Homo sapiens: one gene and its partners. The protein of the gene in region 1 interacts with the protein of each later gene in a pairwise test. Each region holds a gene or a part of one and is shown in the gene's direction. Other genes may lie near its edges.

Region 1 (3,500 bases):
GTCACTTTGTCTAGAAGTCTCTTCTCTTCCTGTCTCTTCTCTGACTCTCTCTCTCTCCTACTAGACAGTGAGCTGCTTGAAAGTGAGCACTGACCTTTGACATTTCATCACCTCTATATTCTCAGGACCAGGTATAGTCTGGTATAGAGTAGTTGCTCAATAAATATGTCTTGAATAAAATGCGTTTCACCTGCCAATTTGAGTATCTGCCCTTCTCATAAAAATAGAGTAAAAGGGCCACATACAGTGGCTCACACGTGTAATCCCAGCACTTTGGGAGGCCAAGGCGGGCAGATCACTTGAGGCCAGGAGTTTGAGACCAGCCTGGCCAACATGGCGAAACCCTGTCTCTGTTAAAAATATAATAATTAGCCAGGTGTGGTGGTGCGTGCCTGTAATCCCAGCTACTCAGGAGGCTGAGGCATGAGAATCACTTGAACCCAGGAGTGGCAGGTTGCAGTGAGCCAAGATCATGCCACTGCACTCCAGCCTGGGTAACAGAGTGAGACTCTGTCTCAAAAAAAAAAATAAATAAATAAATAAAAGATTTTTCTGTTAAAATATAGAAAGAGCCAGACATGGTGGTACACTGTTATAGTCCCACCTATGTGGGAGACTGAAGCAGGATCACTTGAGCCCCGGAGGCCAAGGCTGCAGTGAGCCAAGATCGTACCACTGCACTCCAGGCTGGTGGGACCTTGTCTCAAGAATTTAAAAAAGGAAAATATACTTCTGTGGAGTTCAGAACAATGTAAAATTAATGATTGTATCAAAAGATGAAGTTGTTTTCTTTCGGCTGTTTTTCTGACCCTTCAGAAAACCTCCATTGCTTTGAATCCTGTGGCTCTCAGCAGCATGTGAAACACGGAGGGCATAGCGGATGCCTTATATCACCTTCAGTTCCCTCTGTCTCCCTGGCGCTGTTGGACTAGGTCCAACATAAAATTCTTACAGTTCCAGAATATCTGGGGGAAGTTTTTTGTTTTTGTTTTTGAGACAGGGTCTTGCCCTGTTGCCCAGGCTGGAGTGCAGTGGCACAATCACAGCTCACTGCAGCCTCAGCCTCTCAGGCTCAAGTGATCCTCCCACCTCAGCCTACTGAGTAGCTGGGACCACAGGCATATACTACCACACACCTGGCTAATTTTTTAATTATTTGTAGAGATGAGGTCTCGCCATGTTGCCCAGGCTGGTCTCGAACTCCTGGGCTCAAGTGATCCTCCTGCCTGGGCCTTCCAAAGTGCTAGGATTATAGATATGAGCTACCATGCCCGGCTGGGGGAAGTTTTATTCCAAAATCTGCAATGTATTTTTCATCACCAGAAGATACCTCAGCAAACCAAACTAAGCCATAATTTTATCCATGACTTTTTAAATATATACATTAGAGTAGTATTCTAAGTATAAACAAATTTTCTTTTCTTTCTTTTTTTTTTTTTTTAGTAGAGATGGAGTCTTGCCCTGTTGCCCAGGCTAGAGTGCAGTGGCATGAGCATTGCTCACTGCAGCCTCGAACTCCTGGGCTCAAGGGATCTTCCCTCCTGCCTTAGCCTCCTGAGTAGCTGGGACTACAGGTTCGAGCCACTGTACTCAGCAACATTAAAACATAAACTTTTAGGTTGCAAATCTTATTTTAGGTTATAGATCTCATTCTCAGGCCACTGCACTCCAGCCTGAGTGACAGAGCAAGTCTGTATCTCAAAAAAAAAAAAAAAAAGAAAGAAAAAAAGGCAAAAATGGTTTCTCAAGAATAATTTGGCACACACTTGTATTCAGAAGGCTGAGGTGGGAGGATCACCTGAGCCCGGGGAGGTCAAGGCTGCAGTGAGCTGTGATCTCACCACTGCACTCCAGCCTGAGCAACAGAGAAAGATTCTGTCTAAAACAAAAAACAAACAAAGCAAAAAAAAAAAAAAAAAAAAAAAGACCAGGCGCAGTGGCTCACACTTGTAATCCCAGCACTTTGGGAGGCCGAGGCAGGTGGATCATGAGGTCAGGAGTTCGAGACCAGCCTGGTCAAAACAGTGAAACCCCCATCTCTACTAAAAATGCAAGAATTAGCTGGGCATGGTGGCCGGCACCTGTAATCCCAGCTACTTAGGAGGCTGAGACAGTAGAATCACTTGAACCCGGGAGGTAGAGGTTGCAGTGAGCCGAGATTGCACCACTGCACTCCAGCTTGGGCGACAGAGCTAGACTCCGTCTCAAATTAAAAAAAAAAAAAAAAAAAAAAAAAGAATAATCCTTCCTTAAGGTGAGGTCTGCAATTGACTAGTTGGAGTCGAGGGTTGCTATTCCCAGGTACACATGTAGTTTTGAAATGATCGCTCTCACTCTCTCTAGGTACATGAATATGATGAAACCAGTCAAAAAACATTTTTTTTTTCTGTATCCACATTTTTTGTTTTTGTTTTTGTTTTTGTTTTGAGACAGAGTCTCACTCAGCCGCCCAGGCTGGAGTGGAGTGGTGCAATCTCGGCTCACTGCAACCACCGTCTCCAGGGTTCAAGCGATTCTCCCGTCTCAGCCTCCTAAGTAGCTGGGATTACAGGCACCCGCCATCATGCCCGGCTAATTTTTGTATTTTAGTAGAGATGGGGTTTTGCCATGTTGGCCAGGCTGGTCTTGAACTCCTGACCTCAGGTGATAAACCCGCCTCAGCTTCCCAAAGTGCTAGGATTACAGGCGTGAGCCTCCTTTCTGTATCCCCATTTGTATAAGACAAGAAAATGTGTGGCAATAAAACTCTAAAATGTTTACATTTTGTACTCATTGAAAGCAGTGTTTTTAAATGTTTAGATAATTAATAATAATAATAATAGCTGACATTTATCAAGGGCTTGTTATAAGCCAGGCACTGTTATAAGCACGTTTCTTGGATTAGCTTCTAATATTCTCCATCTCGCAGCTCTGTAAGCTATAGGTATTATTATTGTCCCTGTATTAGTCCATGCTCTCATTGATAAAAAGAAATACCTGGCCGGGGCCAGGCACCGTGGCTCATGCCTGTAATCCCAGCACTTTGGGAGGCTGAGGCAGGCCGATCATGAGGTCAGGAGTTTGAGACCAGCCTAGCCAATATGGTGAAACTTCATCTCTACTGAAAATACAAAAATTAGCCGGGTATGGTGGCCCGCACCTGTAGTCCTAGCTACTCCAGAGGCAGAGACAGAATCGCTTGAACCCGGGAGGCAGAGGTTGCCATGAGCCGAGATCACGTCACTGCACTGCAACCTGGAGGGCAGAGTCAGACTCTGTCTCAAAACAAAACAAAACAAAACACCTCGCTGGGTGCTGTGGCTCATGCCTGTAATCCCAGCACTTTGGGAGGCCGAGGCGGGCGGATCACCTGAGGTCAGTAGTTCGAGACCAGCCTGGTCAACATGGTGAAACCCTGTCTCTACTAAAAATATAAAAATTAGCCACGCATGGTGGGATGTTCCTGTAATCCCGGCTACTTGGGGGGCTGAGGCAGGAGAATCGCTTGAACCCAAGAGGTA
Region 2 (3,500 bases), on another chromosome or scaffold:
GTGCAGTGGTGTGATCTCAGCTCACTGCAACCTCTGCCTACCAGGTTGAAGTGATTCTCCTGCCTCAGCCTCCAGAGTAGCTGGGACTACAGGCATGTGCCACCACGCCTGGCTGATTTTTTTTGTATTTTTAGTAGAGACGGTGTTTCACCATGTTGGTCAGGCTGGTCTTGAACTCCTGACTTCAAATGATCCACCTGCCTCCACTTCCCAAAGTGCTGGGATTACAGGAGTGAACCACTGTGCCCCGCCAGGTCATTGACAGTTCTAAGACTTAGACCCAGAACTTTTAGGTCACCAAGCCTGTGCTTTGTCCTATCCATGAATGCAGAACTTTGATGACAGAGCTGGGGTGAGAACTGTTCCTTCAGTGCTGTTGTAAGCTCATTGTGAAGTCAGAGCTTTGGAAATGTGTACTGATGGGCAGTGTGTGACAGGGACAAGAATGCAGTGGCTGGGATGGAATTCTAGGGGGAGCAGGGATGCTTGGCCTCTGGTCTCTCACATCTCAAACTAATCCTTTTGGTGATGATTTATCCCGAGGTCCATTCCTCCTGCCTGCTCTCTAGGAAGATGAAAATGCTACATGGCTCTTTTTGAATCTGTTCTTGGTTCCATTCCTTGGCTACGATTTTACCTCTTCCTTGTATAAATTTGAATTTAAAAGAGAAAACAAGTAAAAAAATACACATCTTTACACCTAGCCCATCATCATTGTCTGTTTCTCTTACAGATAAAGCTTCATATACCTAAGTCTGCATTTTTCTTCTTTTTGCAGTTTGGGATATGAGATTGAAAATGACGACTCGGAATTTTCCTGAGAGAGAAGTACCCTGTGATGTAGAAGTGGAAAGATTCACAAGGGAAGTTCCCTGCTTGTCCAGTTTAGGTGATGGTTGGGACTGTGAGAACCAGGAGGGACACTTGAGGCAATCAGCTTTAACTCTGGAGAAACCAGGGACTCAGGAAGCAATTTGTGAATATCCTGGTTTTGGGGAGCATTTGATTGCAAGCTCAGACCTTCCACCGTCTCAGAGAGTTCTGGCAACAAATGGTTTCCATGCACCTGACTCAAATGTTAGTGGTCTGGATTGTGACCCCGCCTTACCCAGCTATCCTAAAAGTTATGCAGATAAGAGAACTGGTGACAGTGATGCCTGTGGAAAAGGCTTCAACCATTCCATGGAAGTTATTCATGGAAGAAATCCAGTGAGAGAGAAGCCCTACAAATACCCTGAAAGTGTTAAGTCTTTTAATCATTTTACCTCTCTTGGTCATCAGAAAATAATGAAAAGAGGCAAGAAATCGTATGAAGGTAAGAATTTTGAGAACATCTTTACTCTGAGCTCATCGCTTAATGAAAACCAGAGAAATCTCCCTGGAGAGAAACAATATAGATGTACTGAATGTGGCAAATGCTTCAAACGGAACTCTTCTCTTGTTTTGCATCACCGAACTCACACCGGAGAGAAGCCTTATACTTGTAATGAGTGTGGAAAGTCCTTCTCCAAGAACTACAACCTGATTGTGCATCAAAGAATCCACACAGGAGAGAAGCCCTATGAATGCAGTAAATGTGGGAAAGCTTTCAGTGATGGCTCAGCTCTGACACAGCACCAGAGAATTCACACAGGCGAGAAACCTTATGAATGCCTAGAGTGTGGAAAAACCTTCAACCGAAATTCATCCTTAATTTTGCACCAAAGAACTCATACAGGGGAAAAACCATATAGATGTAACGAATGTGGGAAACCCTTCACTGACATCTCCCACCTTACAGTGCATCTCAGAATCCACACCGGTGAGAAGCCCTATGAGTGTAGCAAATGTGGAAAGGCTTTCCGGGACGGCTCGTACCTCACCCAGCATGAGAGGACTCACACTGGAGAAAAGCCCTTTGAGTGTGCAGAGTGCGGGAAATCCTTCAACAGAAACTCTCACCTCATTGTGCATCAAAAGATCCATTCTGGGGAGAAACCCTATGAATGTAAAGAATGTGGCAAGACTTTCATCGAGAGTGCGTACCTCATCAGGCATCAGAGGATTCATACTGGCGAGAAGCCCTATGGCTGCAACCAGTGTCAGAAACTTTTCAGGAATATCGCTGGCCTCATTAGGCACCAGAGGACTCATACTGGTGAGAAGCCCTATGAGTGTAATCAGTGTGGCAAAGCCTTCAGGGACAGCTCCTGTCTGACCAAGCACCAGAGAATTCACACTAAGGAGACCCCATATCAGTGTCCAGAATGTGGGAAGTCCTTCAAGCAGAACTCTCACCTGGCAGTACATCAGAGACTCCATAGCAGGGAGGGTCCCAGCCGGTGTCCTCAGTGTGGAAAAATGTTCCAAAAGAGCTCATCCCTTGTTCGACATCAAAGAGCACACCTGGGAGAGCAACCCATGGAAACATAATGGTTGGGGGCCACATGAGTCTTCCAGTTCACTCTCACTCCTGTGTTTAGGAGGCGTGTCTTAGATCTGACTCCTCTCTGGTCAGTAGAAAAGAATCCTTTAAGCTATCCAGTGAATTGATGAATGTGAGACATTGCTGAGCCACACTGTTAAGTCTGCTCATTGGGGAACTCCAGAGACAACTTAGGATGAGGGCAGAAAAGTCTTTGGGGATGATTCAGTCTGTACCAGACATGACAACACACACACTGGAATGAAATGTGCAAACATGGGGGTGACACCACAGAGAGAACCTGTGAATGCATTCAGAACATGATTGGAATGAAGAGCCCTGTAGTAGGGAGTTTCCACCTTGTACGTAAGCAAACACTGAATCAACTTTTTTTTTTTTTTCGGACAGAGTCTCACTGTGCAGTGGCATGATCTCCACTCACAGCAACCTCTGCCTCCCAGGTTCAAGCAGTTCTCCTGCCTCAGCCTCCAAAGTAGCTAGGATTACAGGTGCCTGCCACCATGCCTGGCTAATTTTTTCTATTTTTAGTAGAGACAGGGTTTCACTGTGTTGGCCAGGCTGGTCTTGAACTCCTGACCTCATGATCCGCCCACCTCAGCCTCCCAAAGTGTTGGGATTACAGGCATGAGACACTGCCTGGCCTGAATCAACCTTTTTTAAGTGTAATCAGAAAGAGAGGCTTTGGCAGGGGCTCTTACTGTGTTTTCTGTAACAACAAAGGTGTACAATGAGAGAGTCCACACAGTGCTGTACTGCACACACCACAGAATGTGTGAGATTTTCCTGTTTGAATGTATGTCTGCATTATACTCCTGCAATAATGCTGAGGACTCGTTGCAGGAGGGCAAACTAGGTGAATAAATTACCTGTGAATGAACAATGAAGTCGTTCCTCTTAAGACTGAAACAAGCAGGCCAGATGTGGTGGCTCACGCCTGTAATCCTAGCACTTTGGGAGGCCGAGGCGGCCAGATCACAAGGTTAGGAGTTCAAGACCAGCCTGGCCAGCATGGTGAAACCCCATCTCTACCAAAAATACAGGAAATTATCTGGGCATAGTAGTGTGTGCCTGTAAT
Region 3 (3,500 bases), on another chromosome or scaffold:
TTAAATGATTTTTCTCTTGAATATGGGTCACATTTGCTTGCTTCTTTGAATGTCTAGTAACTTTTAATTGGATGCTGAACCCTATGAAACTTATATTGTGACTGCTGGATTTTGTTGACTTCTTCAGAGAGTATTGAGTTTCCTTTTGGCATACAGTTAATTACTTGTGAATTAGCTTAATCCTTTTCAAGGATTGTTTTTAAGTTTTGTTCGTATGCACCTAGAATAGCTTTACTCTAGGACTGGTTTAGCCTTTCTACTAAGGCATGACCTTTGTGGGTTCTCTGCTGATTGTCATGGATGTTCAGCGAGGTTTCTTTATTCTGGTTGGGAGGAACTAGAATGTCTTCCAGCCCTTTGTGAGCTCTGGGGATTGTTCTGCTTACAGCTCTTTGGTAATTGTTTTCTCCATGGTAATTTTTCTTTGCCTGACCTTGTGGACTCTCATCCTCAGCATGTTCAGCTTGGTCTTTCTTTAAAGACTCCAGGGGTCCTTTAAGTAGATTTCTGGCACCCTTTCTCTGTGTAACTTCCCATCTGTACTTTTGTTTCAGCCTTCACAAAGTTCAAATTCCGTTTCCTTTGCTCAGTGAGATTTTCATGTTCTGCTTGGGTTACCCCTCTATGCCACAGTCTAGAAAGTGCCTTTAGATAAAAAGCTGTAGAGATTGTAGTTTCATTTTTATTCCAATTTGTATGTATTTCTAGTTTGATGCCATTTATTTTGTCAAGGACAGAAGCAGAAGTCCTCAAGATCCCTTGAGTTTTGCTGGTAGCACTTTTCTGTCTTAGTTCCACCTTCTAGGTTTTGACCACTAGATAGAATTAGAGGTGTGGTTAATTCTGCAGGCTGCACAAGAGAAGGAGAGCCCTGAAGGCTGTGTTAGGTCAGGAGGCGTATTAAGCTTGATAGTTAATGAGTTCAAGGTAAAATGGAGATTGAAACTAAAATTAGCAAGAGAACTGAAGTCGTAGCATGGGGAGCATCAATTTTGCTGAAGTGGTAAGGTGAGTGAGTGCATAATTGTGAAAATGAGTATAGGTTGCTGCTTAAAAGTTTCTGACTAGTGCTATTGAAAGAGTAGAAAAAGACATTTCATTTAATTTCAGCTTGCATTTATCAAATGCTTATTCTTTGCCAGACACTGTTCTAGACATGGGGAATATAAAAATATATTTTTAAACCTTTGGGGAACTCATTTCCTAATTGGATAAATAGATACATAATATTAATAATATGATTTTGTAGTAGATTTTGTAGAAGAAGATGTTGGCTTTATTTTCTGTTGTTACTGAGTTTAGCATACCATCCAACATGATGCCATGGTAGTACAGGGTATTAAGAGGGATTTCATTTGCTAACTTGTTGATTAAATGATGCTTGAATTGAGACTAGATAGATTAGTAAGCATTAGGCAAATAAAGGTGTGCTTGGCATTTCATGCATAAGGAATTGCGAGAGCAGAGACATGGAAGTATGAGATAATATGAGTGTGAGTATGTGTGTATGTATGTAAATATAACTATAAGCAATTTGATAGTACTAAATTATAAAACAAGAGGAGGGGGTGAATGGAGATGAAACTGTAAGAATTAATAGGGCCTTGTAAACCAAGAGCTTTGACTTTATTCAGTAGGGAATGTATCATCTAATTGGGTTCAGCTGCATTTATTAGAAAATCTCAGAATAGCCATTGATTATACAAGATAGAAATTCATTTTTTTCTGATATGAAATAAGTCAGGTAGACAGTCTAGGGCTAGTATGGTCTTCTGGGACCTAGGCTTCTATTGTCTTGCTTTTCCATCATCCTTACAGCATTGCCTCTTAGTCCAGATAACAGGAAAGAAGATGCTCTTTTTTTTCTTAACTTGACTTCCAGAAAGTCCCATAAAATACTTTTGTTTACATCTAATTGGACACTTGATCATAAGGCTTCACTTTCTAGCATGGGAAGTACATTACTTCTCCAAATAAAATGGGATTCTGTTGGTAGGAAAGAAGAGGGATAACTAGCAGTCTTTGTAATGGGAAGCCCTAGAAGAGAAGTACGGTGGTCAGATGTTCCCTTTATATTACTCTAAATGTATTTGGGGTGAGGGGTTGGAGAAAGAAGGGGAGCAGGAAAGATGAGTCCAGGAGATTAATTAGGTCTCCTGGAATCAGTTGTTTAGGTGAGAGATAAGATCTGATCTAGGGCTACTACTTTTTTTTTTTTTTTAAGGCGGAGTTTTGCTCTTGTCCCCCAGGCTGGAGTGCAATGGCACGATCTTGGCTCACCACAACCCCCGCCTCCCGGGTTCAAGATACTCTCCTTCCTCAGCCTCTCAAGTAGGTGGGAGTACAGGCATGCGCCACCACATCTGGCTAATTTTTGTATTTTTAGTAGAGATGGGGTTTCACCATCTTGGCCAGGCTGGTCTCGAACTCCTGACCTCATGATCCACCCGCCTCGGCCTCCCAAAGTGTTGGGATTACAGGCGTGAGCCACCGCGCCCAGCCTGGGGTGCTACTTTAAGGATCAAAGAAGAGAATATTAGTTGGTATTTTGGTTGCAGGTAACAGAAACTAAATATAAATTGGATTTTGCAAAAAGGATTTATTATTAAAGTACAAAATTCTCATAAGACATATAGATGTAGGAATGCAGCTAGGCTTCAAGAATAGCTGGAATTAGAATTGTGAATGGTTTTTGCAATTTTCTTGCCATTTTTCATTTCCCCTACCCTGAGTTCTAGTTTTTAAAAAATTTTTGCTGATTTCTATTTCTCATGACAGAAATGGCCTCTCCCAATGCCTTCCCATTTCTTAGTTTTAGATAAGCCCATTTAGACCTGATTTCAGATTCCTGTGGAATGGCTCAGGTTGATGTGAATTGGGTCAGGTACCTACGTTTGAACTAATCAGTAGTGGCCAGGGATAGAGGTAGGCTCGTATGGTAATCATGTATTCACTCTATGGTATATTTAATAAATATTTTAAAAATGAAAATGGTAGGCTTGAATATGTGAGGTAACATCATCCTGAGTTTCTGACTTGGTTTAAGTGGGTGGTTGGTTGTTCCAGATAACTCAGTTCAATACTATACAAGGAGAAGTAGATTTTGTAGAAGAAGAGGATAGCTTTATCTTCTGTTCTTACTGAGTTTAGCATGCCATCCAACTGCAGTAGACAATTAGTCAGTGAAACTTTGGTTAGACAAATTTGAAAGATATCAGCACAATTTATTGTAGTTCAGGCGATCAGAATGGATTTAATGGCCCAAAGGGAATGTTTAGACATTGAAAAATGTCATGGGCAAAGAATGGAATCCCAAATAACAAGATATTTAAGGGCTAAGCAAAGGAGGAAGAGTTCATGAAGGAAATGGAGAAGAAACAGAGTGGGAGGAGAGCTGAGAGGTGTCATGGAAGCCAGGAAAGTGAGTTATCAACAGAGTTGCATTAAGCAGAGAGGTCTAGAGAGCTGAAGACTGAAACGTTTTGTTGAGTTCGGCACAG
Region 4 (3,500 bases), on another chromosome or scaffold:
CGCCATTCTCCTGCTGCAGCCTCCCGAGTAGCTGGGAATATAGGTGCCCGCCAGCACACCTGGCTAATTTTTTGTATTTTTAGTAGAGATGGGGTTTTGCCATGTTAGCCAGGATTGTCTCAATCTCCTGACCTCGTGATCCACCTGCCTCGGCCTCCCAAAGTGCTGGGATTATAGGCGTGAGCCACCGTGCCCGGCCTCTGAAGACTGATTTTTTAAAAGTTGTTTTCTTTAAGTTACCCCAAGTAGTACAACATTGTCCTCTTGTATGCTGATTTTAGCGTATTAAAAAAAATACCATATCTTCTGAGAAGCCTCCAGTGGGAAACAAAAATACCACATCTATAACTACTATTTATAATTGACTCTTCTGAATTTTTATTTTGAGAGAAGCTAAACAGATTATTTTCTAGAGTCTTATCAGATTGGATCTATAATTTTCTGTAGCAAATTTTTTCATTTTGCATCTGTTCCAGACAGTAGGCTAAATTTAAAACTGTGGTTGGCAGCCTTTTATGCATAGTATCATAAATAATTTCAACTGTTTCTCAACTGAGAACATAATAAAAATTTTATATTTATGGAGAAAATGGGGTTTTATCTCTTTAGTTGCTTCAATTAAAAGAACTGAAAGGGTAGGGCACGGTGGCTCATGCCCATAATCCCAGCACTTTGAGAGGCCGAGGCGAGTAGATCACCTGAGGTCAAGAATTCAAGACCAGTCTGGCCAACATGGTGAAACCCCGTCTCTACTAAAATACAAAAATTAGCTGGGTGTGGTGGTGTGCGCCTGTAATCCCAGCTACTTGGGAGTCTGAGGCAGGAGAAGGCAGAGGTTGCAGTGAGCTGAGATGGTGCCACTGCACTCCAGCCTGAGTGACAGAGTGAGACTCCGTCTCGTAAAAACAAACAAACAAACAAAAAAACTGAAAGGTATGTAAAGGGAGTGAGGGAGAAAGGCCAGTCAGACCCTTCTAAACATGATCTGTATGTTGAATAATTACAGCATTTTTTCTTCTTTGCTTTGTTGTCATCCTAAAGTCCCGGTCACCCATGGGAGCTACTGCTTTTGTGCCCACAGAAGCAGCTACCCTGAAAGTCCCTCCTACCCCCTCCCATGTCCTCTTACTCCCTCCCAAAGTCTTGCCCCACTGTGAGGAGGGCTTCTCCCTGGCTCCTTGATAAGCCACTGAGAACTTTGTCCCTGCCCCCATTTCCTCTATTTCCCTGCCTTCTCTCCACTGGCAGTCCTTGGAGCCACACTGCAGGAGCGCAGCTGGAGGGAGAGCATTGGGCTGTGGTTGCCTGGTTTACAGCAGGTAGAACCGTGTTCCTCTTCATCTCAGTTAAAACTTACAACTCAGGAGGCTCCTTATAGAAATACTTTGTAAAGGGTTGTTGGGTTCTATCCTATTATACCTTTTGTTGGTTGATCTGGGAATTGAACCATCCTTTATCAAATGGATTAAATAACATTTATTTTCTGACAGTTTGGTCTTGCTCCCTCTCGTTCTTAAAATATCACTGGGGAAAATGTACATAGCCCACAAATAACCTATAACTCATTCTATATGCATAGCCCATAATTAATGTATAACCTAACTAGGTGGACTCTTTAAGAAGCAGCATTTTGGATCAGTGTCAGCTTAATTTGTCTTTCAGCTCCAGTCACTATATATCAAGTGTTTTCTCCCCACCAGGCTGATTTGAACACCAGCTTTTCTGGGGTGGATGAACATGCACCGATAAGCTATGAGGACTTTGTGAACTTTCCTGATATTCACCACTCTAATGAGGAGTATTTCAAGAAAGTAGAAGAGTTGAAGGCTGCCCACATAGAAACTATGGCAAAATTAGAGAAAATGTACCAGGATAAATTACATTTAAAGGAAGTTCAGCCAGTGGTCATCAGAGAAGACTCTCTTAGTGACTCTTCCAGGTAAGCTTGTAACTCAATGTTATTTGTGGAGTATAAAATAAAATGTATCCTTAAAAGGACAGAACAAAGTTACTTCATAATATTTTCTCTTAAATAGCCCTTTGTACTCCCAACGATATACAGAGGTAGGATTTTATTCAAAATGTTTAATGGCTTATCAGCTTACTGGATGACCGTTTGCTTGAGGGTCATTTGGTGGCCATTTGGTCTTTTCTTTCTGACCCACCCATAGAACTGAGGGCATGTATCAAAATACTTAGTCTGTGCCATTTTAACTGGTAAATATAAAAGTTTAATTTTAAAAGCTCTTTATAATATGTGGATTAACATGAGCTCATTAAAGATCTAGTACAAAGAGTTCAGGACTAGGAGACATGAATCTGATTTATGTTTTCAAAATAGTCTGCAATTTCAAGACCCATTTCTGCTGTGAACTCACCTGCTCTGAGACTTACACATCTAGTCAGTCAGCGATGCTTGCATGTCTCCTTTGTGCCAGACTATGCCTGGGCGCTGAGGAGTCAAAAACAAGATGCCCTCAAGGAGCTTAGAGACTAGCTGAGAACCAAAAATTGCATTACAGCATGATGTAACAGAGTGTTACAGAGGAAGAAGCAGTTGGTCATGCCAAGCTTTCAGAGGGATGCAGGCCAGAATTTTCCACTAAAGTGTCACATCTGAGTTCAGTCTTGGAGGAGGAATAAGTATTGGCCTTCTAGGCAGCAGAAACCATGTATGCAAAGGCAAGATGGCATGAGAAATCATATCGTGTGTGAGGAACTTCACAGGACTGGATATGAATGCAGAATGGAGACTGGGGTAGCCAGTGGTGAGGGGTAAGACTGAAAAGATAGGCGCCAGTCTCGAAGGGCTTGTAATCTAGGCTTGACTTCGTAGCAGTGAGGAATTATCAAAAAGTTTCAAGCAGGGGAATGACATGATCAGATCTATGCTTCAGGACAGTGACTCTGGAAAGTGGGGAGAATTTAATAGAGGTTAGACACAAGGACCCTCTGCCATCTCAGGTTCCTTCCCTGTAAAATGAAGGAGTCAAAGTGGATAATTTATGGGCATTGCCCAGCTCTATTCCAAATAAAAGTGATGATTCTTACAAGCCCTGTCCAGCTCCTCGCTTCTGATTATACCCTGATCTTAGAAAATATGTAACTCTTGGCTGGGCACAGTGGCTCATGCCTGTAATCTCAGCACTTTGGGAGGCGGAGGCAGGCAGATCACGAGGTCAGGAGATTGAGACCATCCTGGGTAACTTGGTAAAACCCTGTCTCTACTAAAAATGCAGAAAATTAGCTGAGCATGGTGGCACAAGCCTGTAGTCCCAGCTACTCGGGAGGCTGAGACAGGAGAATTGCTTGAACCTGGGAGGTGGAGGTTGCAGTGAGCCGATATCACACCACTGCACTCCAACCTGGGCAACAGAGTGAGACTCTGTCTCAGAAAAAAAAAGAAAATATGTAACTCTTAATTTTTATATTTGGTCACATACAACTGAAAGTATAACATAGTTATTCTTCTCATTTAGATCTGTATCAGAAAAGAACTC
Region 5 (3,039 bases), about 82 Mb from region 1:
TTAGTCTTTTGTGTCTCCCAAGGTGATGTTTTTGTGGTTTTTCACTTTTTATGGGTCTGCTGGTAAGAAAAGGGAAAAAAAAAAAGAGTAGGAAAAGACAAAGGGTGGAAAGCCCAGAAGTTGGTTCTAGAAAATACAAGGTACAGTTTTTTGGAAAGAGGTGGATTGAGTTTCTGAAATGCTGCGTCTCCAGCAAGCTCCACAACCCTGGAAAAGGAGGAGGCGTGGTGGGACTGCGGCTGCATTTTCAGTGCCCTGCAGGAATGGGGTGAATCCATGGAAGAGCCTTTGTGAGGTGAATTACTAGTCTTTGAAGCTCTTCGCTGGCAGGACATAAACCACGCTGGGACCCTCAGTCCCGTGTTGAAATCACAAGACCTCTGAGGCGCTTGTGAGCCTTCAGCTGATGTGCAGGGTTCCTCGCTCCCCTTCCTCGCTGGCTTTCCCCATGAATTGAAAACGTCTTGATTCCTCATGGGAACTTAGTCACTTTCTTTAGGAATGATTCAGTTCAGCCGAAACTAAACACGCCATATGTTTTCTGATGCGCCACAGTTAATGATCACATTTGTTTGAAAACAGGATCTTTGTCCTCAGAAATAATCTTGATTGTAAAGTAAGAGAGAAACATATGTTCTGGAATGATTTCTGCATTATACATAGCTTTATAATTCCATGAAGTATCAAGCTGCTGTTTAAAATGCCTAAACAGATTAAAGAAAAACCTAGATTAAATGTTCTTTTCCAAATGGGGAGTTTTGAAATCCAAATAGCAGTTTGAGTCCATCTTTCTATGAAGAGTATGTTTTTGATTGAAACCGAGTCAGCGTAAGCCTATTTCAGCCCCTTTGGCTCTTTGACAATATTCATCTTAAACTTTAGTTCTATAAATTACTAAGTACTTCAGTGTTGTTTGTTTCAGTGGTTGTGAGGGTTTCTTGTTTCCTTTAGATCTTTACCTTAGGCCAAACTCAGTTTAGGAAAAAAAAAATTGTTTGAACTATTCTGTGTTGTAATAGCACATTTCTGTTGAGTTAATAGTGGTCTTCCCACCAACCCCTAAAACCAGGTTGATTTGCTCAATCTCAGTTTGTATAACCCCAGTAAGCGCATGGAGGTGAGTTTCTACTTCGACTTGTGGCGACACAGTGCCAGTTTCCTGAGCTGTGTGTACTACTTGCAAGAGGCAAGTCTGCTGAAGAACCCCTTCTTTTAACAGTGGAAAATCAAGAACAGAAAATCTGTTCACACACCTGTGTCTTATTCTTTATATATGCTACATGGTAGAGGAGCAGCGACCAATAAAGTATCCCTCATTTTAAACCAAGTTGTCAGATTTCTCTGCTGATAGAACGCTGCATAGTATCTTCTAGCCCTAAAAATGACCAGGTTGGGCATGAGTTAACAGGATATTGTGGCAAAAGGAATTTTCTGCTTAGAAAAGTAAATGTAGATAAACCTAAACTCCACCCTGTACTGAGCCTTAGGCTAGGGACTCATGTGTAAAGATGACTTTTCTCCCCAGATATCTTGTCATTGACAGGCCTTCCTAGTCTGGTAGTCCTACATTTGGGTGTTCTCCTGAGAGTGAGAAAAAACCCAAGGTCATGACAAGATTCCTGGCAGGTGACAGACTTCATTATGATTCTGACTCTAGACTGACCCCATCAAGATAGTCGTTTCCGTCAGTGAACAGATGCTGAAGGCCTTGCCATTACAAAGGAGACAACTGAGTTCCCTGGGTCATAAGGAGTCCAGAAATTAGTGTGAGAAGGTCCTTCTGGAAGTGAACTCAAAATTCATGTCCAGCTGTCATCGTTAAACCCTTAGGCAGGTGAGTATAACCCATTCTAACCTCTTGGAGAAGGGAGTGTGATCAATGTGAATCACAATAGTATTGCTCATCTGAGACATTCCTCTTATATCCAAGCAGCTATCTCCCATGAGTGAACATCCCAGTGGTTTCAGAAAATCATGTCCTGAACAGATTCTAGCCAGCCCCACACCACCCTGGCCAACTGCAACCGCTGCTGCTCTAGCAGTCTGGGTCAATTCCTACAGGCTTGGGAGCCCACCCCAGGGAGGCTTTTATCTCCTGCAGCCTCATCCCCAGCACCCTCAAGGTAGACTACTCCTCAGCCTGAATCATGAATGAAACCTGAACATCTGCCAACTTCATTATCTAGCCCAGTATCTCTTCCCTCACAGAGAAGAAGAAAATGAAATACAAAGTTGATCCATTTGTTGGCTTTCTCTGGCCGGAGAAACCTCTCGGGTTGTTGCTGTGAGCTTTGATGAAGTTGTGATAACCAGGGCCATTTGCACATAGGTTTTTTTAAAAAACATGAAAAGTTCCCTTCTCCTTTATTTAGCAGTGTTTCCGGGCTGAAAGACGCCCTCCTCCCCCTCTGCGCTTACCCAGGACGTTAATTAATTGCACTGTCATTTAAAATATTATGTTGTTAATTACTCGTTTGTGTCTTCCCACCCGTGTCACAGCCTGGAGTTTTTATTCAATTAAATCTCTGTCTCTTGCCCATTTCTCTTGTCATTTTATGTTCCTGGGGTTTAGCAGTCAACACACGCACAGGACATCTCAAAGCTTTTCTTCTCAATCTTTGCTTCACATGGATAACCACTTCCCTTCTATCAGAGGTAGAGCAGAACGGCTTGTTTGTTTTTTGTTCTGTCCAAGGAATACCTGTGTACCTCATCAGGCTGGAATCCACCTGTGTTTTGTCAGGCTTGTGGCTCGGAGATCATTTGGCGCACAGGGCTCCGCTGTTCCCTCAGCTGTTCAGCTCAACAAGCAACCCCTGCAGATGCTGAAGCTCCCCTAGGGAAGTGGGCCACACACATCTGGGAAGTACGATGCTGTCACCCACCAGTAGAGAATCCTGCTAACCATCGTAAAACACAATTTGGCAAAGCCATGGGAAAATACTATTGCAGCCTCAACATTTTTTTTTAAAAAAAGAACATTCTAATGTAATAGAATATCTCTCTGCTCGCCTGCAGCTTTTAATTAATTTAGAGAGC
Region 6 (3,500 bases), about 17 Mb from region 1:
TTAGGATCTTCCTTAGAAGTTGCTTTAACTAGTGCACATATTTATCGCCCATCACGCAAGGTGAAGACAAGACCACAGACCTTGACACTTGTGCTTGAGCGATGGGCACCGTATTCCAAGGGTGGGGTGGGGCAGGCTGCCTGGTGGGAACAGTATTTCTTCACCCTGTGTTCCCGCACATCTGGGGGCGATGGGGAGCAGCTGGCTGTTGATCTGATTACTGTGGTTAACGTCTCCCCAGACAGCACCTCCTAGCACGTACTTAGGAGGGGATATGTTCCTAGGACCTGCACACCCCTTCGCTCCCAAACCCTTTTCCTATGTCCCTCCAAGCCTGGCCGTCCTGCTGGGTTCCTGTCGCTGAGGAATAGATAAGAGGGGAACTAGGATACAGGCTGGTGATCCCTCCAGAGCAGTTCACGTGGGTTGGAGGTGGGGGACTGCCTAGTTCTAGCTCAGCCCCTCAGAGGGAAGGACCCAGCCGGCCATGCCTCCGTCTCGCCACGGGCCTTGAGAGAGGGGCTGTTAAAGCTTCCCGGCTGGGGAACAGCCTGGGGGACCCTGAGCTCCACTTGCCCTGTGAGGGTGGGGCTTCGGTTGTAAAGTCCACAGTGACACAGTTCTGCGGGTAACACCATTTAGCACTTAGTCCGCCCCCTCCTGGCCCCCTCGAGCTGCTCTTGCACCCCTGGGAGGCCAGTCCCAGATTGTACTGGTAAGCGCATTTCAGCTGCTGCTGATCTCTCTGTGGGTACAGGGCCCCTCCCTCCCTCCCTCTCTCCCTTCCTTCCTTCCTTCTTCTCTCTCCTTTCCTTCCCTTACTTTGCCCATCTTCACTTCTTCCTCCCCCCTTCTTATCATTTCTCCTGTTTTCTTCCCTTTTGGTGCGTTTCTCTGCTGGGGCAGCCTCAGAGGATTATAGACGCCTCTGTTTCTCCTCCTAACACCCGTGTGTGGGAGGAGCCCACTTCTGGGCGGGCATCTTGCATTGGAAAAGTGCAGTCAGCACGGTGGAAAATGTTGCTCATGGGCACACAGCTGCTCTCTTGGCGGGTGGTGGTATGTGGGGGGCTGGGCCACCACCCACCCTGTCCTTGGGGCCTTTACTATTTTATTATCTAGCGAATGTGTCTTATCTAATCTATCTAGCTTACCCATCCATCCATCCATCCAGTCCCAGGACAGCTGTATGGCTGGGCGGGGCTGCGCTTGCCAGGAAGCCCCAGGGCACATGGCCACAGGGAGGCTCATCCCAGCCTTGGGCCCACACAAGGGGATTGATCCTGTCCCTCCCCTTGGCTAGGAGTCTCCTCACATGTCTCTTCCCGGCAAGTCAGATGGTTTTCCTGCTAGAGGGTTCTTTGTACCTCTGGGGGTTCAGCTGATGCTCCCCAGGTTGTTTTAGCACCTGGGTGGCTCAAGTTTCGGGTTGGCTCCTGGGGAAGGTGAGGAAGCCAGGCACACAGCCTGGAGAGAAGGGTTGGGCCTCACTTGCAAGTTCCAGATGGGCTGCTTCTGAAGCCAGTTGAGGATTTTGCCCTGTGTGGGCCCTGGTATTCCCCTCTTCTGCACTTGGGGCTCCTGGGTATGTAGGGGGTGACTAGCAATTGAGGCCCAGGGCTTGCCACCCACACACCTGTGTGCTCACGTGACCTTTTCCACAGCCAGGAGAAGACAGCTCTAGGGTTGCCGTGGCCTGGGCCCACCTCGCCCCTGCCTTTGGTTCCTTCTGCACCCACCTTGCCCTTTGTGCCCTTCAGGTCTTGATCCACAAGCTGGACATTGGTGCCTCCCCATGTCCAGTGCATAGGAGCAGCGCAGCCACGATTCTCCCTTGCGTTCCTTCAGGTCACAGATAGGAACCTGCTGCTTCCAGGGACTGAGGACAGGAGAGAAAGGCCTCTGTGCTTTGCTCCAGGTGGCCGTGTGCTGCTGCCAGCCACTTGGTGCACTTGGTGCGGGGCCAGCTGCCCCAGGGCCTTACCTCCTGATTTCGGGGCTGGCCCTGGCTCTCCAGTGCTTACACTTAGGGCTCTAGCCACAGCCATTTAGGAATGTCATTGAGAGAGCCAAAGCCTGCGCGGGGATGTGTAGGGGGAGGGAACAGCTGTTTCTGGGCCTCTGGCAGCAGCAGCAACGCTGAACTTGTGGCTCGGAGGCTGGTGCGCTGTGGCTCATGCCTGTTGCCACTGCCATGCTCCCCGTTATTTGTTGCGTCACTTCCCCCCGCTCAGCAGATACCCCCACTTGTGAAAAGTTTCCAGACATCACGTGGTGGGAGGCCTTGGCGCCCTTCAAGGCCGACCTGTGCTGGTGTGAGGGGCGTGGCTTCCTCCGGACTCATCACAGCCCGACAGCCATGCATGGCCACAGCAGCTTCAGAGCTGCGGCAGTGATTCACCCCCCAAGATGCTGATGTCACAGGGGAGTGCCTGAGCCGGGGCAGAGCTGCCGAAACTGGGGGCGGAGAGCCCCAAAGTGTCCCTCTCACCTGCCCAGAAGCCGGGGAGCCAGCCCCGTGCAGACTCAGGCCTCAGAGAAGAGGAGGAGTAGGCAGAGAACTCACTACCCCTTAGCAGATCCTGGGCCAGGGCGTGACAGCCGTGCCCAGTTGAATCTGTCTAATGTGGCCCCAGACAGTGGGTGTTGATTTTTCTCTTCAAACATTCTGAAATGGGTTCTTTCTAGAAAAGAGGGCCCGCTTATTTTCCCTAGACAATTGCTGATGTTGACGCCCACTCTGGGTGGTGTTGGGGCGGGAGGGAGAGCTGTTTTAGATAGTTACTTAGTCACGGCTTGTGCGGTTCAAGACTGCTCGGCACTGGGCCATGGAATTTTCCTGAGCATTTTCACTTGTGGGATTTCCAGGCATTAAGTGAGGCCCTTGACAGAGAAGTTGTGGCCAGGTCAGCAGCTCTTGGGGTCAGGATCAAAGTTGTTTCTCCTGGGATGGCCACCAGGACACAGGTTTCTGGAGTCAGAAGACTCCGCAACTCTAGGTAGTTCCCATGAATCAGAAAGAGAGGGAGAGCTAGGCTTTGTCGGGGGATGGGGTACGTGCAGAGCCTGAGAGGGGCCGAGTTCTGCAACACTGGCTGATGAAACACCGTCTTGTCTTCACCTGTCCATGAGAGAATGAGAAAATAGGAAAGTTTTCTTAAAGACCAACATGTCCAATTGAAACATCTGTCCTTTATTCTGAGATTGTCATGCATTCTTTTTGTAACAAATGTTAAAGTGACCATGTCGTTTCATTTTTGAAATGATGACACATTTCAGTGTTCTGTATTTGTTCCCTTTTTTGGCTTTTTCATGTTATTATCAGGCTGAATACGGAGGCGGCTGCCTCGTGTTGGTGCCCCAGTGCTTTTTGGTTTGGGCCACTTTTCCTGGACAGTAAACCCAGGAATACAGGAGCCACCAGTTGGTTGAGTTTGGCTTGCAGGGGGTATCTGGACTGAACTGCCCTTTTGTGGCAGAAATGCCCTCACTTGTTTTAA
Region 7 (3,500 bases), on another chromosome or scaffold:
TCTCTCTCTCTGTGTGTGTGTCTCTCTCTCTCTCTATATATATATCTCCACACACACACATTATGTTATACAATACATATATATTACTTTTCTTCCTATAATTAAACATGAGTTTAATAGCACATTACAGATGAACAACAATTACCTTATAGGCATGAGAAGTAACATGCAACAGGATGCTTCCACAGCAGCTGCTTTTACGGTGTTTGTGTAATTGTGTTTGTTGATGTGACCTTCTGTTATCACTATGGATTCACAGTTTGCATTTTACGACCTTGTATTATTGGGAGATTTCTTTGATAATTGTGAAGGCCCTTTATACATTTTAGTGCATTTGAATATAAAGTACTGTTATTATCACTAGTAGTTCAAAATTATTCCACGTGAAGGCAATATCACAGACTTAGTTTTGCCCTGAAAAAACTTTAGATGATTCTGTTTGCCTAAATCTCCTACAGCCTAATGATTACTGCAATTTTTTTTTTTTTTTTTTGAGACAGAGTTTCGCTCTGTTGCCCAGACTGGAGTGCAGTGGCACAATCTCGGCTCACTGCAACCTCTGCCTCCTGGGTTCAATTGATTCTCCTGCCTGAGCCTCCCGAGTAGCTGGGACTACAGGCATGCGCCACCAATTTTTTTGTATTTTTAGTAGAGACAGGGTTTCACCATGTTGGTCAGGCTCATCTTGAACTCCTAACCTCAAGTGATCTGCCCACCTCGGCCTCCCAAAGTGCTGGGATTACAGGCATGAGCCACAACGCTTGGCCCGATGGCTGTAATTTTTTATTGTGAAACTTACCTGCTTAGCTTTTAAAGGAATCAAAAATTGTTTATTCTGGGAGAACCTCTTTGAATGACAGATACAGTCATGGCAAAGATGCTTACTGGCACATAAATATTCTACCGAGAAGGGCAGCAATTCTCAAAGTATGGTCTGGGGAACCCTTTTTGGGGGTCTGTGAGGCCAACACTATTTTCAAAATTGTCTAAGATGTTAGTTGTTTTTTCCTCCTCTTATGAGTGTACAGTTAGTCTGCCCAAAGCTACATGATGTGTGATGAAGTCCTCACCCTGGTGGCCTGTGAAGTGTGTATTTACCTGTTCTAAAGGTCACTCTGTTTTCATTTCCAGTATGGTAGATATCAATAGCTATAGCCCATATTAACAAAAGCTCTTTAGGACCTCAATTTTAAGGTGAAGGGGTCCTGAGGCCAAAAAGTCTGAGGCCTACTGGAGTAGGATTGTTAACCTTGGTCATTTATTAGTCTTAGTAACTGGTGACCTCTCTCTCTTTTCAAATTCTTATATTTCTTATGGGGGCTTTAACTTATTATCTGTCACCCCCAATAATTTCAGACATAAATGTAGTTTCATTTATTGCAATACAGAATTAATGTAATTATTAATTTATTATTAATATAAATATAATTATTCAGGGTCAAGGAAGCCATTAGACATTTTCAGGATAAAATAAAATTAAAATATCCTAGAATGAGCCCAGAAAGCTAGCAAGCTGCTTTCTTCAAGGTAGCAAGCCCCAACGATATAGTAGGAAGGGAAAACATTATTGTTACTTTTTAAAGAAGATCTTAATGAAACCATTTGATTTCAGGGAAATGGAGAAAATGAGAGGTTCTTAGTGTTCAAAGTCTATTCATTAGCGTTATATAGATTAAAGGCAGTACCATGGAGTGTGCTTTTAAATTCAGATCATGTTCTGTAGGCCACATTTCAGAACAGCTGTGGTTTTTTTGTAGTAGAGTACCATTCTTAGAATCTGTTCTGTCCCCAAGCGCAGTTACTTAGTTATTGAAATTAGAGGTGATAAAGAAGTCCGCAGAGGAGCACATCTCCCAAAATGAAATCTTACTTTCTCTCGTGAGAACCAAGGCAGGAAGACTGTGGTGAGGGGCTCTTTCCTTTTCACACTCATGCTTCAGGACGACCCACTGTGTTTGGGGCTCTCTGTGCTCATACCTTGTGTGGTGTGAACCAGTGACCCTGTGTCTGTTAGGATTGGTGGTTGGGTGGCATCAGGCTGAAGAATAGGTGAGCGGGATCGTGCTGTTCAGCAGGAAAACTCAACCACAGGAAAAGACCACTTCCAGAACGTGGGTCTGCTCTGGATGCAAATAAATACATTGATTTTAACATAAGTTTTGTTTGGAGAACAGTTTAAGTTTTTAGAGGAAAATATTACTTTTATCATCTCTGTGTAGAAATAAAGGCAAGAGAGAAATATAAGGAAGTAGACACTCCCTATTTTCATACTGTTAGGATGCAGAATGTAATGCCATTTTGAAAGTACATAGGAGGTCATTTAAACAAAAAATTATTGAACAAATACTAGTAATGATTTTACAAGTTGTTGTTTTGTTTTGTTTTAGGTGAGAAACCTTTTGAATGTAACATTTGTGGGAAACATTTCTCTCAGGTGGGAATACTCTTATTTATTGTTAATAATTGGAAACCTGCAACACAGTGTTTTTTTATTGGAAATAAGACATACTTTTGTACTTGTGAGAGAAGCCTCTAATGATGTCTGTAACTTAAAGACTTCAGAATAAATTAGGATAAATCGTTTTCAAGAAAACAGATTTCTAGTTCTTTGAGAGAAAAATAGCATTTTCATGTGTGAATTCTTACAATACTTTTTTCGCCTTGCTAAGGATGAGTCCAAACTTAGCATATGTCTTCCGTTTCATGAATGAAGTTCACAGTGAACCACCTTGAGCTTGGCGTACCTGGAGGCTGCACATTGTGCTGGGTTAGGCTGAAGACAACTAGGTCTCCTCATTCTTGTTGGGACTGTAGATTGTAGGATGTTGGAAAAAAAGATGAAACAAGTTTTGTTCCCTGTGTTGACTGCTACCTTTAGCTGACCTCCATTAAGGTCATTTGGACACATAGGCATTCAGTCCTTGAGGAAACGTTTGTTTTACCCTCCCATGGGCCAGGTGCTGTGCTGGGCATGGGACACAAAGAAACCTAGAGACCTAATGTTTTCTAGAAAATGGCTTGTGGGAACCTATTCTTTCTGAAACAGAAGGTAACTATTCACCGCCATGTGCAGTGCCCTGGGCTTCCAGAGGTAGATCAGATGGAAGCTGCTCCAGGGCGTGAGGGCGCAGCTCTTCAGGGCACAGTCACTGGCACGACTGTCTCACACAGCATGGTAGATCCTGTGGCAGCAGTGCATGCCTCTGGAGCTGGGAGGCAGGCCCCGCAGAGCTTGGAAATGGCAAGCGCCGTGTTTGCTCGCATTCCCCCTAGAGCAGACTCTTCCAGTTTCTCTTCATCTGTTGAGGGTGTCAGTTCCATTTGCTCACACACCCAAACCTGCCATCTTAATGACTCTTCACCCTCCCACTCTCTGAGTCCCTGCCTGCTGGGATTCACCAAGTCCTCGCCGTCTCTCATCGCGTACTCGGTCGGGTCATGTCCTCCTGAGCACTTCATTTCTCTGGGCCTGGGGCCATGTCTTCTCTCCCATCCAGGAG

What was found.
Region 2: the proteins of ZBTB8A (region 1) and ZNF329 interact in binary tests that used the Homo sapiens proteins (3 or more experiments, as listed by UniProt).
Region 3: the proteins of ZBTB8A (region 1) and CWF19L2 interact in binary tests that used the Homo sapiens proteins (3 or more experiments, as listed by UniProt).
Region 4: the proteins of ZBTB8A (region 1) and FAM161A interact in binary tests that used the Homo sapiens proteins (3 or more experiments, as listed by UniProt).
Region 5: the proteins of ZBTB8A (region 1) and SYT6 interact in binary tests that used the Homo sapiens proteins (3 or more experiments, as listed by UniProt).
Region 6: the proteins of ZBTB8A (region 1) and ZBTB17 interact in binary tests that used the Homo sapiens proteins (3 or more experiments, as listed by UniProt).
Region 7: the proteins of ZBTB8A (region 1) and ZBTB49 interact in binary tests that used the Homo sapiens proteins (3 or more experiments, as listed by UniProt).

The regions. Positions count from the first base shown.
Region 1 is NC_000001.11:32,545,927-32,549,426, forward strand, and holds part of ZBTB8A (zinc finger and BTB domain-containing protein 8A), read left to right. Parts: intron 1-3,500. UniProt on the Homo sapiens protein: May be involved in transcriptional regulation.
Region 2 is NC_000019.10:58,126,790-58,130,289, reverse strand, and holds part of ZNF329 (zinc finger protein 329), read left to right. Parts: intron 1-178; exon of another isoform or gene 179-352; intron 353-778; coding exon of another isoform or gene 779-786; coding exon 787-2,412; 3' UTR 2,413-3,500. UniProt on the Homo sapiens protein: May be involved in transcriptional regulation.
Region 3 is NC_000011.10:107,444,326-107,447,825, reverse strand, and holds part of CWF19L2 (CWF19-like protein 2), read left to right. Parts: intron 1-3,500.
Region 4 is NC_000002.12:61,840,561-61,844,060, reverse strand, and holds part of FAM161A (protein FAM161A), read left to right. Parts: intron 1-1,700; coding exon 1,701-1,939; intron 1,940-3,479; coding exon 3,480-3,500. UniProt on the Homo sapiens protein: Involved in ciliogenesis.
Region 5 is NC_000001.11:114,088,792-114,091,830, reverse strand, and holds the end of SYT6 (synaptotagmin-6), read left to right. Parts: 3' UTR 1-2,539; downstream 2,540-3,039.
Region 6 is NC_000001.11:15,948,602-15,952,101, reverse strand, and holds part of ZBTB17 (zinc finger and BTB domain-containing protein 17), read left to right. Parts: intron 1-1,739; exon of another isoform or gene 1,740-2,171; intron 2,172-3,500. UniProt on the Homo sapiens protein: Transcription factor that can function as an activator or repressor depending on its binding partners, and by targeting negative regulators of cell cycle progression.
Region 7 is NC_000004.12:4,303,751-4,307,250, forward strand, and holds part of ZBTB49 (zinc finger and BTB domain-containing protein 49), read left to right. Parts: intron 1-2,387; coding exon 2,388-2,434; intron 2,435-3,500. UniProt on the Homo sapiens protein: Transcription factor. Inhibits cell proliferation by activating either CDKN1A/p21 transcription or RB1 transcription.